2 separate regions of the Homo sapiens genome follow, and region 2 is linked to region 1. A link means that fine-mapping ties the variant in region 1 to the expression of a gene that starts in the linked region. Tissue or cell type: subcutaneous fat. Region 1 holds a variant in brackets; the other region holds the start of a gene. All regions are shown on one strand. Distances are from middle to middle.

What was found. PIP is the estimated chance that this variant, and not a neighbour inherited with it, causes the effect.
Region 2: CD2AP starts here. The variant in region 1 is fine-mapped to the expression of CD2AP in subcutaneous fat (FUSION, PIP 0.95).

What each region holds. Positions count from the first base shown.
Region 1 is chr6:47,252,705-47,257,914 of GRCh38, reverse strand. It overlaps TNFRSF21 (TNF receptor superfamily member 21), which reads left to right. Exons shown (of 6, transcript NM_014452.5): 4 at 4,394-4,659. Among named protein-coding and RNA genes, the nearest start is that of TNFRSF21, 55 kb to the left of the region's middle. The variant G/A (reference allele first, on the strand shown) is at 2,335.
Region 2 is chr6:47,475,426-47,480,535 of GRCh38, reverse strand. CD2AP (CD2 associated protein) reads right to left here and starts at 2,747. Exons shown (of 18, transcript NM_012120.3): 1 at 2,288-2,747. The coding sequence starts at 2,291. It overlaps CD2AP-DT (CD2AP divergent transcript), which reads left to right and starts at 2,464. Exons shown (of 1, transcript NR_187257.1): 1 at 2,464-3,293. RefSeq lists an enhancer at 1,463-2,189 and a silencer at 2,476-2,985.

The sequences.
Region 1 (5,210 bases):
GGCATCACTAACTGGGTGGGTGACCTTGCACTAGTCACCAACCCCAACATGCGATTTCCTTGCCAACAAAATTGAACACTTAACCATGTGTATTTATGAAGTATTTATAAACACATCTTATATATGTGTATGTTATATAGATAGTTTAAAAAGGAATAGTAAAATAAATCTCAAATAAAAGTAATAACATGAAAAGAAAACCCATTTCTCCACTGTCCAGCCTAGGAAACAGAACTTTATGAATACCTTTGAAATCCCTTCTGTGCTCCTTCCCCCTCCCCAAAGAGGTAACTATCTCAATTTGGCAAATCGTCCTCCTGCTTTTCTCTGTAGTTGATTGTTTTCTTTTGACTAACACTTTTTCCTACACAAGGAAGGCATTCAAAGCCCCAGTCTGGTCTCCTCACTGGGGTTTTGTGATAATGTGCTAGACTAAAAGGTTGGTATCCCCTGAGGGAGTCATTGATTTATCTTTGATTTATCAACTCCACGGTGGGAGAGGACAGCAGTGAAGAACATTGGCGACCCCAGCCAGTTCATGGAGTTGACTCCATGTTTTCATAGTAGAGAATCTAGCTGAGAGAGAGAACAAGATGAAACCTGATTTGTAGGCCTTAAATTTAGCTTCCAGTCCATTTTAGTTTAGGGAAATTTCATTGTATCTATTCTTTGTGGGTTTTTTTTTCTTTTTTTCTTTATTTTGTGGCTTAAAAAAAGGATAAATACAGTACTGGGTTTTGGAAGGAGGGGTTGTTAAACTTAAACCTTTTAAACTCTGTAATTACTTCGTAAAGGCCGTGTATTTGCATCTGAAATGCATTGAGCCTTAAGTTTAGTCCTCTGTGTATGGAGCTTTCATAATGATGGGAACACTTCCAAAAATAAAGTAACTCTATAGAAAATGTTAATCAGCTTATCCGCAGTGACCCTAGTGAGTTTCTCCATTGTACACATGAGGAAATGGACATGACAGTTAGAGGTTTGCCCAAAGCCACTGTCATCGGCATTATGAAGATTTAAGCAATGGTCCTACTTACCAGAAAACATGGTCATGTTTTCATGTAAGACACTGTGGACCTTAGTCAAATTGATCTAAATTAAGATTCAGGGACTAACAAGACTTTTGGTGTTTGGAAGAGTCTACCACATCAATCACAAAGAGCTGGCTTATTCCTTAAAGTTACCTGCAGGGTTTAAAATCAGTTATGGGTTTTCTGAGGAGTCTATTTGCTTGAAATCAAAAGCTCTGTATCTGACTAAACATTGCTCGGAAAACTGAAAAGGACTTGGTTCAAGTAACTTCACACTGCCAGGGAAAACTGTGTGAGAAGTACAGTAATGACTCAATTTGTGGCATCCTTTTTAAATTTTTTGTGGCATTCTACTTTTTTTGAGATAGAGTCTCCCTCTCTCACCCAGGCTGGAGTGCAGTTGTGTAATCTTGGCTCACTGCAACCTCCCCTCTGGGGCTCAAGCAATCCTCCCACCTCAGTCTCCCAAGTAGCTGGGAATATAGGCCTATGCCACCACACCCAGCTAATTTTTGTATTTTTTGTAGAAATGGGTTTTCACCATGTTGCCCAGGCTGGTCTCAAACTCCTGGACTCAAGCGATCCACCTGCCTCAACCTCCCAAAGTGCTGCATTACAGGTGTGAGCCACCCTGCCCATCCATTCTACTTTTATAGTTGACAGGAAAACAGCCTTCTACTAGGAACTGATTTTTGAAAACCATTTTCAGTGGATTGGTGCAGAATGTGTATACAGTCTTCCACATCATCTGCCTCAATAGGATTGCCTGGCAAAGTAAGAATGCGTGTTGAGGAGCCACAGCGTCCTTCGTTTTTACAGAAACTTTTATAATTATTATTGTTTTTATTAGCAATAATTGATAGCTCATTTTATAAATATTTTCCTGAACAACTGATGGGTGCAAAAAATATTTTTATTTTTTTTCTAGGAAACCTTTGATTGAGAAATCAGAACAGTAAACCCCTCTTTATTCTTCTCTTTTCCTTTCTCTCCTAAGCCTCACTTGGGAATGTGACCCTATTTTTTTTTATTGAGTAGTAAATATTTTTTAAGATATTGTTAACTATAACAGCTATGTTATCAGGGCAGGTGAGCGTGACCTCATTCAAAGACATGATATTGGCCAGGCATGGTGGCTCACGCCTGTAATCCCAGCACTTTGGGAGGCCAAGGCAGGCAGATCACCTGAGGTCAGGAGTTTGAGACCAGCCTGGCCAACACTGATGAAACCTCATCTCTACTAAAAATACAAAAATTAGCTGGGTGTGGTGGTGGGTGTCTGTAATCCCAGCTACTTGGGAGG[G/A]TGAGGCAGGAGAATCCCTTGAACTCGAGAGGTTAAGGTTGCAGTGAGCCGAGATGGCACCATTGCACTCCAGCCTAGCTGACAAGAGCAAAACTTCATCTCAAAAAAACAAAAAAAAAAACCAAAGACATGACATTGATTCAGAGGACTCACTCACCCGTTGTAGTAAAATACCAGGGCCCTTACTATAAGGGTGATATATGCATCCCACATGTAAATCCTGGCAAAGCCAATGTGTAATTGCAGAGAGAAGACGCCATAAACAGAGAGACACCAAAGTGAGCTACTCAGGGAGAGCCTCCCCTCACGAACGGTTGGTGCCAGGTGCTTATCCTGAGTTTTTGGATCTTGAGATTTGATTTTTGCATTTCACCAATTTCATCATCACCATTTCATCTGTTCATCAGATCTGGGGACCACAGATGCACACTCACTGGGTTTTCAAGTGACTGCTGAGCCAGGATGATAATATATTGAATCATTGGGGACAGCTGTCTGTCAGACTAACCAGCCATAGTCATTATAAGCCAAGGCATTTCCTTCATCTTGGAAGGTACCATCGATACTGTCACATTTCATAGTGGTTACACATACAGGATTTGAATTACAAAACTGGTGAGTTGGGTTCAATAACCAACTCACCTACCTTTGTGATACTGGGCCAGTAGCCTAACTTTTCTAAGTGTATTTTTTTTCTTACCTGTGTAATTGGAATATTAATGCCTTATAAAGATGTTCAGTGAGCTAATGCCTTAACATAATACCTGGAAGATAATAGCTATTGTTATTATACAGTCATTTTGGCTGCTGTCTTCATTATAACTATGCAAGCCAAGTTGGAAGACTGAATAATGAATTAGAAAATTGCTTGTTGAACATGAATTTGAGCACAACTTAGGTGTTCTTCAGGAATGCTTCTATTGGCCTGGAACAGCTGGGCACACTGTTAGTTGATATAAAGGACACCATTCCCAGAATTTGAAAACCTTTTACCTAGACAGTTCTGGGTAAAGTCCATTACAGTTTTAATTTGCAGCTTCCCTTTTTCTAAATGTCATGAAGTCACCATGTTTTTAGATGGGAGCCTCTAACTTACTTGGTTACTATTGTATTTAGTACAGTAGTCCTCCCTTATCCACAGTTTAGCTTTCCAAGGTTTCAGTTGCCTGTGGTCCACTGTGGTCCGAAAATACTAAATGGGAAATTCCAGAAATAAACAATTCATAAGTTTTAGATTATGCACTATTCTGAGTAATGCGATCAAATCTCACATTCCCGTACCATCCTGCTCTGTCCTGCTGGGGAAGGGAATCATCCCTTTGTCCACCATATCCATGCTGGAGACCTCACCTGCCTGTGAGTCACTTAGTAGCCGTCTAGGTTATCAGATTGACTGTCTCAGTACTGGTACCACAGTGCCTGTGTTCAAGTCACCCTTATTTTACTTAATATTGGCCCAAAGCTCGAGAGGAGTGATGCTGATAATTTGGATATGCCAGCGGCCATAAAGTGCTTCCTTTAAGTGAAAACATGAAAGTTCCCCACTTAATAAGAAAAGTCAATTGTATGCTGAGGTTGCTAAGATCTACAAGAAGAAGGAATCTTCTATCCATACATTGTGAAGAAGGAAAAAGAAATTCATGCGTAGTATGTATAGGGCTCTGTACCATCCATGGCTTCAAGGCATCCACTGGGGATCTTGGAACTTATCCACCCCTCTCCTTCAACAAGGGTGTATTACTATAGTAACAGAGGAATCACCGTGAATACCTTATTTGGGTTTGGCTTTCGAAACATCTTTTTGGGTCTGATTTATTATAATTCCATGATCATTCCTTCTTCTGGTTCCACACTCAGGAAGTGAAATTTGTATGAGGGTACCAGCTAGTCCACAAGATGAGCTGCTTGTGCCAAGTGCTTAAGGGAGGCAATGCATTCCTTTGACATACAGCGATAGGAAAGCGTGCCTCTTCTAGTTCATTCATTAAAGCAGAGCTGCCTTATGTAAGAAGCTTCCCTTACAAGCCCTCATTTGTTTTTTATTTTTTCTCTGGTGTAGGTATCGATATCCTGAAGCTTGTAGCAGCCCAAGTGGGAAGCCAGTGGAAAGATATCTATCAGTTTCTTTGCAATGCCAGTGAGAGGGAGGTTGCTGCTTTCTCCAATGGGTACACAGCCGACCACGAGCGGGCCTACGCAGCTCTGCAGCACTGGACCATCCGGGGCCCCGAGGCCAGCCTCGCCCAGCTAATTAGCGCCCTGCGCCAGCACCGGAGAAACGATGTTGTGGAGAAGATTCGTGGGCTGATGGAAGACACCACCCAGGTAATGGAGCCCTTGTTGTGTGTCATTACCACCGACCTATTGCCCCTATGCTTCAAATTTTATCAGTTGTATGGGAACAAAGAAAAATAACATATTCGGTGGATAGGCACACACACACACACACGCATACGCCTGCACACACACACACACACCCTACCTTCTAGGACGGGGGTTCTCAGTGGCCGTCTATTAGAATCATCTAGAAAACTTTAAAAAAAAATACTGATGCTCAGACCCTACCTGCAGACCAGTCACATCAGAATCTCCAGGGGGCAGAGCGTGAATCGGTATTTGTAAAAGCTCTCTTTGTTACTCCATTTACAATCCATTTTGCATGACACACTTTGAACAAAACCAAGAAAAAATACTTTTTACTACACCGCCTCTCCTCCAGAGGGTGTTTTTGTGATGTGGCTTATGAAGGCAGCATTCTTGCCTCCTGAGGATGCAGGTGGTGCTAGCGGCAGTTGATGACAGAACTGATTCTCCTCCTTGGGTTGTTCCGTGGAGCACATCAGATGGGAACTGAGGGGACCCAGGAGTGTGATTTC
Region 2 (5,110 bases), 220 kb before region 1:
TAGAAGAGAATTTGACCTCAAGTAGTCTCTGTCCAGAGCCCATGCTTTTAACTCTCTAGCTGTACCACCTAAACTTAAGAACCACCATTTAATAGGCATCCAAATTATCTTACACACAAAAAAAATTTCAGATTTTTTCATTTTGTGACAAATTAGATAAAATATCATGTAAATATTTTAGGCTGCATCTAAAATCATAAGAAAAAAGGATGGCTGGTAAAACCAAATAAATGAGATTTATATTAAAGAGCAAACTCCCTTTAAGTGAACTTGGGAATTTTATTATTACATGACCAATAAACTTAAAGAATATATATATTGATATGGAAATGTTTCACAAACACTTTACAAAAACTTAACCACAAATGCCCTCAGTAACATACCTTCAAAACACATTCTAAGTAGTCGAGAGTATACCAACATTGATATCCAAGTCTATATGAAAACTCACCTAAACAGAACACAACAAATAAATCACAAAGAAAAAGCCTCTGGACAATCAAAATAGGTATTCCAATGTCCAAGTATTGGTACACATTTACTTTTCTCCAGAGACGACCTCACACACTAAGTAACGGCCTACTGATTTTTCCCCTATGCAGAATCACAAACCTGAATATGATTTCCACACTTCTAAAAAAAAATTAGAAAAGGAAAGATGATGGGGGACACTAATCAGTTACAAGCACATCCAAAAGCAAAGCAAAAAAAAAAAGTATTTAAATAATTTCAAAATGCGAACAAATATTATTTAGAATTTAGCTCAAAAGCCCTATATGCAAAACAAGACTGCATCCCCAGGTCATCCAAAGTAGTTTAATTTTATTCTGCATCCCATTTAAGACAGAAAAGAACTGTGTAATTAACTTTAGTATTATCTTAATCCAAAGCAGTTAAAGTGATTTTATAATTTCATACTTAAAAGAATATGCCCACAATTGCCCTGCAAGCTCAACTAATCAATTATAAAATAATTCATTTGAAAATTCCAAATAGCAAATGTTTTATTTCACTGTTTTTGAGCTCAAGAGCACTTTTGAGTATGAAAGTTACCTGAAAGGAGGGAGGTGGAGAAGGGAACATAAAATTAGAAAAGTCTAAGAAAACAGAGGATAGCTAGGCGAGTGTCTATAAACAATATGCTCAAAACATCCCCCACAAAGCAAAGTGTGGACAGAGGGTGCCACATCAGCAGTAGTCTGTATTCGTCCTGCTTCTAAATCATTTGTTAATTACATGAATTATTCATTTCGGTGATCGTTTGTTGATATGAAGCAGTACCAACTCTCAACTGCAAAAAGTGATAGGGTCCTCCTGATTTGCTCTACAAAAATCAAACTTGGGTTTACTCTTACAGAACACGTTCTGCCTTATAGAGACACAGGGTGTTTTGTTTTTTGTAAGCTATTCTTAAGTTGCTTTTAATTTTTAAAGGATTGAGGGAGTTAGTTTAATGCCTAGCCCACACCGAACTTTGTTATCAAAAGAAATTGTTACACCACTTAACAAAACTCCTTTTCAACCCGGACTGCCACACATTCTGCCTTCTCTAACTTCAAACAAAACTATAAAGCACATAGTAAATAACATATAAGGCCTTGTATTTTTCTCTCCTCCGGCAAGGAAGTCTAACTCCAAACAGGAAACTGCTCCTCAAAGGATCCAACACTGAAGTCCAAACCCAGTCCTCGGGAGCACACTGAATGCTTAGGTGCCAACACACTTGCCTAGGTAGAACCCGAGTAAAACAAATACTCAAGCTTTCCTGTCCTTGAGGCACCCCTTGCGAGTTTCAGCAGGAAAAAAAAAAAGTTTTTGAACAAATTTATCTCTCTCCTTAAACGTATTCAAAGCCTCGCAGAAAATAAAGAAGTTGAAAGTGCTACTTTATCAAGTTTTTCGATCGCCCTCCCCCATCCCACGAGGAGGGGGAGGGAAGCAAGGGGATGAGGAAGGGAAGGAAGGTCAGGTCTGATTTTAGCTGGGCAAGGGGTTAGCAGAGGTGGCCAGGCGCCCCCGCCCCCCATCCCGCACCTTTCTGGTGAACAGGAAAAGAGGCGGAGAAGGGAGAGCGAGGGAAAGCACCCGCGAGCTCTCCCACCAGTTTCTCCGTGAGAAGAGCAAGGTGGAAGGCAGGGCAAGAAGGGGCGGTGGGGAGAATGGAGAGGGTGGGGTGCTGCCGCTCAGGGGCTGACCGCAGTCGCCTCCCCAGAAGGCCGAGAAAGGGCACAGCCTCCCCGGGTCTGGAAGGTCCGGACGGGCGGCGGGAAGCGCCCGAGTCTCTTACCCATGCTGGGGGCTCCCGCGGGGAGAAGCCGACGTCCGCTCCTCCTCCTCCTCCTCCAGTGGTGGCTCGCGCGGCCGCTCCCGCGGCTGGAGGCGGGACCCGCGCTCCGCGCTAGCCCCTCCTGAGCTCAGGCGGGGCGAAGAGTCGCCTCCATCCGCCCGCGGCGCTCTCCTACCAGTCTCTTCAGCGCGGCCCTCGAGGCAGAGGCAAAGGCGGCGACAGCTCCTCACCCCTGGCCTCCCCAGGAGCCACGGCGGCGGGAGGGCCCTACCCCGCCCGCCCGACCGCGGTTTTCCCACCCTGGCCGCTCCCGCAGTGGGGAGGGACCCACCGGTTTGCCCAGACCCTCGGCTCCAACCCCGAGCGCCCGCCTAGCCTCGGAGCCCGCCCCTCGCCTCTTCCTTAGCACTCGCAGTTAGAAAAGGCGACACCGTAGACTAAGGTGGGGACCCAGACAGAGGCCGAGAAGGTGCGGGGAGCTGGGACCGGGAGGAGGCAAATCTCGCGAGAACGCCCTCGTTCTCCCCGCCCCACCCCGCCCCGTCGCGTTCGGGCTCTCTCCCGGTCCCCACGGCTGCTGCCAGGTGCGGTGACGTCACGGCCGGGGGTCGCGCGCCGACCGCGTCCAGGTGCAGCGAGCGGATGAGGAAGCGGTGCAGAGGAGCTTGGGCTCGCTCTCCCCCCGGAGGCTCGGAACAGCTTGGGCGGGCGTTTGGTCTGGTTTGTCGCCTCAGATGGATCAAAAGGTTTCTGCTGATAGGCAAAGTTGCCCCACTTTCCGCGGCGGCGACGCGGAGTTACTTTCTGCAGCGAAGCAGCCTCGAGGACCTTAAAGGGAAAAGGCGGACAGAAGGAGGGCGAGCGCACTTGATTTCGACCTTTAAGGGAGGCCCAGATGCTGCCAGGCCCCTCAGTTTACCTTGCGAAGTTACTTACGGATCAGCAGCATTTGGTCTTCGTCGGGTGAGGGAGAAACCTAGGCATCAAATAAATTCTGTTTCACAGATTCCTTTAGTCTCTTGTCAGCTGAATGCAACTTTATAATTTGCTTTTTTTCTTTTTAAAGTATAATTTGAGTTGTTACTTGATCGAGAGAAAAATAGGCATCATGATTTGAAATACTGCCAGGCATTTTTTCTAGCGTCAATGTGAAGGAGGGCATAGGATTACTATAGTCAGTCAAACATGAGCTTGGTAGTTACGAAGAAGTATAATTATTTCAGCAAGCTTTTTTTCCCCCTTCTGTTTAAGTAGACCCAATTCCAGGGCAGATGTGTGTGTGAGCGTTTGTTGAACGCCAACTATTGTGCCTAGTGCTTTTTCAAGAAATTTTGTAATTCTCAGTCATCCAGCACTGAAACTGACTTGCCCTTTGGATCCAGGCAGACATGGGTCCTTGAAACTCAGCACAGCCATTTACTTTTTGTGGGACCTTGGATAAATTAACCTGTCTGAACTTCAATTTCTTGAGTATGTTCAAACAAATCTTGCAATGCAGAGCACAGTGGCCCATAGTAGTAACCTTGGACGTATCCATTACCACTATTTCCTATAGGCCTGCTTTTGCCATCTTTTAATTCTTCTAATGCTTCTCAAAAGGTTACATGTGGTAATTTTATAACAAGAATGATCAAACTCACAAACAGCAGCCAAAAAGGATAAAAGAAAAAAGTTGAATATACTCACCTAAACAAGATTACATTGACATCATGGAACATGTGCCTTTTTTAGGTAACAAATATGTGTTCAGCATTATGTTCGTTGTCCCCTACCAAGCAAAAAAATAAAAAGCTAAAGTACAGCGCTAATCCTCAGAGATTTTGCATTCTTCTAGGGGGGTGAGATACGAACACAAAGTTAATTAACAGTATGAGGTAGTGAGGGTCAAATGCTTGAGAATTTAAAGGAAAATAAATTACTGTGGGCAAAGCAAGCTGTAAAGAGAAGGTATGAGTTGAACGAAAGCTTGGGGAAGGCAATAATTCAGTCTGGAGGAGTCCTAGAACTGAGGAATGGAAGTGGATATGCAAACAGAGTATTTCTGAGCCTTTAAGAAATGTGTGTGGCTCAAGCAGCCCATAAGGAAGGCCATTTACGATTTGGAAGAATGAGGCTGGTGATGGGCTAAGAAGGATTCATGAAAGGAGACAAAAATATAAGCTATTGGAAGCACATACATAGGTAGTAAATTCAAGGCCCAGAGCCCTTAAGTTTCTAGAGACTAAATTTCTAGGTCTCTAGAATCCTTAATATTTAAAGAAGAAAGGCCAATGAATAGAATGGAAAAGAAGTTAAGTAAAACAGAAGGGGGAATAAAGACTATCAGATTTGATAATAAGGGCATCTTTGAAAATATAATTTCAGAATATATATAATAGAATATATAATATATAACTACATATTCAGAATATATATATAATAGAAAATTCAGATTAAAGGTTTTATCAATTGAATGATAAGGAAGTGGAGGCCACAGATAAGGTAGATATTTTCTGAGAAGTCAGGTCACATGATCTGACAACAAGATAAAACATTTACAATCATTTATGTCCTAGAAATTCCAGGATCTTCACACTTGTAATCCCAGCAATTTGGGAGGCCAAGGGAGGAGGAGCACTTGAACCCAGGAGTTTGAGACCAGCCTGGGCAACATAGCAAGACTCCATCTCTACAAAAAAAAAAAAAAAAAAAATACAAAAATTAGCCCAGGTATGGTGGCACAGGCCTGCGGTCTCAACTACTTGGGAGGCGGAAGTGAGAGGATCACCTGAGTCCAGGGCCGTCGAGGCTGCAGTGAACTGTGATCCTGCCACTGCACTCCAC